Homo sapiens: one gene and its partner. The protein of the gene in region 2 interacts with the protein of the main gene of each other region in a pairwise test. Each region holds a gene or a part of one and is shown on either strand. Other genes may lie near its edges.

Region 1 (2,580 bases), on a different chromosome or scaffold from region 2:
GAATAATCCTTTTATCAATGGTATAACCCGTCCATGTGTCAATTAACGTTTTCCAATTTTACATATTATGAAAAGGAGCATTCTTTAGAGGAACTTAGGGAAGTACGTAGGTTGGGGCAAGGATTCAGATCTAGTTTGATACCCAACTTATCTACTTTGAAGCTAACGGCATTTGGGAATTATGAAGTTTCTCTAAACCTCAGGTTTTCAGCTGTTAAATGAGGGGGATATTTAGTACTATTTACAACTGTTAACTGTTAAGCGTTAATGTATGAATGACCCTAGCACATAGTATGGGCTCAATAAATGTTAATTTCCTTCTCTTATGTACACAGCTGGCTTTACCTTATTTTGGAGGGAATATATTTTCTGAAAGTTCAGGCCTGGGTAATTCCAAATGACAATCTGAATAGAATGTTATTGGCAGAAGTGAACAAATATGAAAATGTTCTCGTAATTAAGGTCCTAGGAGAGTTACATGGGACACCCAAGAGTAAGTATGATCCTATCTTTGAAGACAGATGCATTATAGAATCTATCACTGGTGAAATCTAGGGACTAGCTAAGGTAGCCCACCTGACCTAGTAGGAAGGCATGGTGAATTTTATTTTTCTGCACTCCTTCTCTGGAAAGATGGAGAGTCACAGTGAGTTTTCCACTATTTGATAAAGACAATCACTTTCCACACATGAACATTCTACTTTAGACAAGAGTCAGACAGCTGTGGGAGACCTGTGAAGACATATTTCAGTTTTATTATCTTTTAGGCATAGACGGGTATGTTAATCCATTTCCACAAACAATTCCTATAATCACATATAGGGAGTGAACCTTGAACTTGCAAAACCTGTTTCCTGTTGCCAAAGAGTTAAATTGGAGAGCCGAAACCTCAAAAGTTGAGGATTTGGAATTCTTTTTCTTCTTAGCATCTTCGTGCATGTGGCTGCCATTAAACAAGTAAGCTTTCCTCTTTATCCAGGCACTGAATCGATGGTAATAATGTTGTCTTTTTTTTTCCCGGCAAACTTTCTGCTTTCGGTCCAGAGCTCTGAGTTTCTCATGTTCTGCTCTCGAGGTTCTGACAGCTGTTTTTGGACTTAATTAACCATTGCAAGTGGAAACCAAGAAATAATTGTAGCATAACTCTCTCTATTGTCATGTTGCTTCTTTCTGCAAATATATCTTAGAAGTTAGACTTTAAACCTTTGATCTCCCACACCAAAAGAGAAAATAATATTTATATGGAAGTAATTTTATTTTAGTGTTTGTGATTTATTGTGGAGAGCAGGTGTTTAAAAATTTTAGAATTTCTTTAACAAAATTCTAAAGAGAAAATAAAAAAGAAATCACAGTATTTACAGAGATAACAGAATGGCTTAGCCATGCAAAACAAATAACTTTGGTTTTTCCCCTTTTACTTTGGTTTAAATGTTGACCAAGATTCAATTTTTTTTCCTGCCAAATAAAACTTCAATAAAAGTTTAGAGGCAAAATAACGTATTTTCTTTTTTTCCCATAATATTTTATACAGCATCGAGTCTAAGAATATTTTATGCATTTAATCCATACCAATGCACTACGGAAGCTTTTATTAAACGGAGTCACTATTGCCCAGACAGTAAATGGTTTACAAATGTACAATAACGTATGTTTCTAAATAATGCAGAAGTGGCAAAGTATTATTCCTATTCTCATCTGACTTTAATTTTCAATTTATTTTTCATTGCCTTCATAATTTTTTATTTCATGAGTCTAAGAAACAAACACCAGTTTTCCTTTTCCTTTCAATAACATAGTTCTATACCTAGAAATCTGATGTTCATTTATCTTCCCTTTAAAGTTGTGTAAATCCTGGGAAAGAAATCGCTGTGCAGTGTTCTCCCAGAAACCAGGCTTCTGCTTGAAAGAGCAAAGTTTAAAAGTCTAGTCACAAGTAGCCCATATCTGGTCTACTTCAAAAAGTTTCCATTTATACTACCACCTTAAAAATTTCCTCAAGCATAAAACATGTTTATAAAGTTACAAATTTGAATGTAACTAAAGATACATAGACATTTTATTATTACACTTTCATGTACTGCTTGATAAATTATGTATCAGTTAAAAACACTAAATTATCTCAAGGTGCATTCAATATCTGTAGGGTAGTTAACAAAAACACACACGAAAAAAATATATATTCTATATTCTGTGGAAAATAACACAGCTTTGATAATGACCACTGTTAAAAACTCCAATTCTGATTGATATCTTTTTAAACATGAAATAGGTATAATTTTAAGGCAGTGGATAACCCAAAGGATTTAACACCAATTTGTAATTATAGTGATTTACATTGTGATCTATGAAAATGGGAATGTTGACCATGATTTTTCCAAACTGTCTCTCACACATGCTTGTGTTTTTTCTTTTGACAGAAAATAATTTATTAGCAGGTGTCTGTAGAGGTAAGTGCTACCAAATTCTGTTTTATGTCTTTTTCAGAATAGGTAAAATTGTCAGTTTGGGAGTACCATTATGTATGTGTGTCTATATGCATCTGTGATTTATTTCTGAGAGTTCGCTGGTGGCATATCAAAG
Region 2 (3,834 bases):
TAGTAACAAATGGGATTTGAACTCTGATCTGCCTGGCTTCAAAGTGGTGTTAATTACATTACACCACCCTGCTTCTTATGTTATGTGAACATATGTATATGTATAATTTAGTTGTATGTGGTATTATGCCTCTTCAGTTGTATGTGACTGAAATACAGTTCAAACTAGCTGAAGCAAACAGGGAATTTATTGATTCTTACAACTGGTGAAGAGTACAGTTAGGCCCAGCGTCTAAAGTATGTTTTCGGGTCCTCATCTCTACCTCTCAGCTCAGCAAGCCTTATTTGTTGCTTTATTTTAAGACAGAATTCTCCATGGGACTAAAGAATAACTGTTGGAAGCCCTAGGCCAATATTATCCTTAGAGCTTACAGCTTTAGAGGAAGAAAGATCCATTTTTTTCCTCTGGGAGCTCTGATTGCTAGACTTTAGATCACCTGCTTATCCAGGAGGTGCAAAATCATTTCTACCCAGGCCATATGGACAAGGGAGGGGGCAACCCCAAAGGAAAAGGGTAATGTTTGTCATTATGTGTTATAGATCATGAATAATATTTTGCATATGATACTTCAAATTCCCAACAGCCTTGAAGGGTTGAAGAAATCTAGCTAAGATGTTCAAAGCCAGGACTGCCACCCATTTCTTTAGCTTCACATCCATTGTTCTTTGCTCTGTGCCATAATGTCCAGATAAATGAGCTACAGGCACAATCTCACCCATACCTCTCACCCACTGACATTTACTCTTTCACACAAATATGGCACAGCTGAGAAAAGTTATCAATAGCAATGGAATATACTTCCTGCATAAAAACCTACCCAAAATTGGTTATAAGTCAGGCGAGAATTTTGGCAAGGGATGAGAAGGTGGGGGTAATAATGTGAGAGAAAATGATATTCACTGAATTTCTTATTTCAAGAGTATTAATTTCTTTTTCCTTTGAAGGTGAAGGCTGAAGTGTTAGACATGGCAGATAATGCATTTGATGATGAATACCTGAAATGTACGGACAGGATGGAAATTAAATACGTTCCCCAACTGCTAAAGGAGGAAAAAGCAAGCCACCAGCAATTAGATACTGTGTGGGAAAATGCAAAAGCCAAATGGGCAGCCCGAAAGACTCAAATCTTTCTCCCTATGAATTTTAAGGATAACCATGGAATAGCCCTGATGGCATATATTTCCGAAGCTCAAGAGCAAACTCCCTTTTACCATCTGTTCAGTGAAGCTGTGAAGATGGCTGGCCAATCTCGAGAAGATTATATCTATGGCTTCCAGTTCAAAGCTTTCCACTTTTACCTCACAAGAGCCCTGCAGTTGCTGAGAAAACCTTGTGAGGCCAGTTCCAAAACTGTGGTATATAGAACAAGCCAGGGCACTTCATTTACATTTGGAGGGCTAAACCAAGCCAGGTTTGGCCATTTTACCTTGGCATATTCAGCCAAACCTCAGGCTGCTAATGACCAGCTCACTGTGTTATCCATCTACACATGCCTTGGAGTTGACATTGAAAATTTTCTTGATAAAGAAAGTGAAAGAATTACTTTAATACCTCTGAATGAGGTTTTTCAAGTGTCACAGGAGGGGGCTGGCAATAACCTTATCCTTCAAAGCATAAACAAGACCTGCAGCCATTATGAGTGTGCATTTCTAGGTGGTAAGTGTCTGCTCTGTCTGTGCTTGGCTGGGAGGGAAGGAGTGGGATTCTTAGGCTTAGGGAAAGGTCAGTGAAAGGAGAGTGAGAGGTGTTTGAAAGGTGAAATGACATTCCGTCTAGCTTCTTTCATACTATCTCTTTACCCATAGTTAATTTTATGAAAATTGTACATTTACAGTATTATTAAAAGTTAAAAAAAATTAGCACTATAAGGCAGTGGTTCTTAACCAAAGGCAGTTTTGCCCTGCAGGGTCATTTGGCAATGGTCAGAAACATTTTTGGTTGTCACAGTTGGGGAAAAGGGGGATTGCTACTGACATCTAATGGGTAGAGGCCAGAAACACTGATAGACAATGCATAGGACAGCCCCACACAACAAAGAATTATATGGCCCAAAATGTTGGTAGTGCTGATGTTGAGAGACCCTACTATAAGGCTTACAATAAATAAATAGTGCAGCCTGGGAAACATAGGGAGACCACCATTTCTGCTAAAATAAAAATAAATTAAAAATTAGCCAGGCATGGTGGCACATGCCTGTGGTCCCAGCTGCATGGGAGGCTGAAGTGGGAGGATTGCTTGAGCCCAAGAAGTCCAGGCTGTAGTGAGCTGTAATCACACCACTGCACTGCAGTCTTGCAGCAGAGCAAGACCCTGTCTCAAAAAAGAAGAAAAAGAAAAATAGCAGTCGCCAGCCCCACCTTTCCTCAATTTCCACTCCTCAGTGGCATCCAGTTTTCATTCTTTTAGCTATTTCTTCAGGTGCTTACTGTCATGTTTCCAAGTAAATAACATGCTTCAACATGTTATTTCTTGGTTTTTAAATCTTTAGACATCATGTATTGACTTCCTACTACAGAGAATGAGTATGTAACCCTCATCTACCGTGTATTAGTTAAGAATTTTTTATGTGTTCAGCTGTAAATAACAGAAAACCTGACTGAGCTTTCATTTAATAAGTCTTAGAGGCAGGCTGTTCAGAGTCAGCGCAGTGGCTCATCCATGTCATGTCACTCATGCTCTTTCTTTCTGTTCCACCATCCTTACCATGTTTTGTTTGTTGATTCATGTTTGCACTTGTGACTGTTGCAGCTCTAGGCATCAATCCATGTCCAAGACAAAAAGAAAGTAAAGGGGATGACAGCCAAATCTACTTGTTCAGTAAGGAAAGTAAAAGTTTTCCCAGAAACCCTTACTAAACTCCTGATTACAGGTCATTGACTTGAACAGTTTCTTGGTCACCCATAGCTACCAGAGAAGCTTGGGAAGGGGGTAATTATCCTTTCTCCAGCCAAGGGAATATAGTGTGTGGGGGAGACAAAGGAAAAGGGAATTAGAAATGGCTGTTAGATCAGTAAACCAAAAGTTTCTGAAAGCCAACACCCTCCTTCCCAATGTACGTCCATTTCCCCCTTCCCATTCTCCCAGCATAGTAAAGACAGGTCATAGCTCAGTTAGAGTGGTTTTTCTGTGCTTAAATCCCTCTTTTACCCCAGGGTTATTCTATGATTTTTTTGTTTGTTTCCTTAGTTTTTTTAATATCCAATCAGTAATTCACCTCCAAATCCTTTGACAGAAATATAAATTTCTTCTTTCCCCTGGATAATTCCCTCATCATACTGCTCTATGATAAGCTCTTTAGGCCTGCTGAACATCCTGAAATCTCTCATTACCATTCTGAGATATTGCTTCTTCCCTATGAGAGATCTCCTATTTCTTGGATTTGCAACTCTTTCTTGGATTACTACTTTGTTTGGTGTGGTGGGGATGGGGGTTCTGCAGAAGTTTCGGAGAAATGGTCCACTAAAGAAAATTTTCTAAGTCTCTGCATCTCTGAGAGATCTGCCTTTAAGCTTGATTAATAGTTTATGTAGATTTGCATTTCTATTTTAGAAACTATTTTTCCTTGGAATTTTGAAGATATTCCTCCAGTGACTTCTAGGTTCTGTAGCTGTTGTTGAAAGGTATGAAGCCATTCTAATTACTAAAACTTTGAATAAGACTTTTTAAAAACAAAAATCTGGAAGGTTTTAGGTTGTTTTCTTTATTCCCAACATTCTGAAATTTTATGGTGTTGTGCCTTAGTGTGTGTGAGCAAAGGGTTAGTAAACTCCTTCTCCTGTCTTCTGTGAAAATGGCCTCCTGGTGATCTTCCAGCACTCTCTCTGCAATCTATGA

Evidence for each region.
Region 1: the proteins of ART3 (region 2) and ALCAM interact in a two-hybrid assay, tested with the Homo sapiens proteins (one large-scale study listed by BioGRID and IntAct).

What each region holds. Positions count from the first base shown.
Region 1 is NC_000003.12:105,575,056-105,577,635, reverse strand, and holds the end of ALCAM (CD166 antigen isoform 1 precursor), read right to left. Parts: 3' UTR 736-2,580; downstream 1-735. UniProt on the Homo sapiens protein: Cell adhesion molecule that mediates both heterotypic cell-cell contacts via its interaction with CD6, as well as homotypic cell-cell contacts. Promotes T-cell activation and proliferation via its interactions with CD6.
Region 2 is NC_000004.12:76,080,880-76,084,713, forward strand, and holds part of ART3 (ecto-ADP-ribosyltransferase 3 isoform a precursor), read left to right. Parts: intron 1-944; coding exon 945-1,656; intron 1,657-3,834.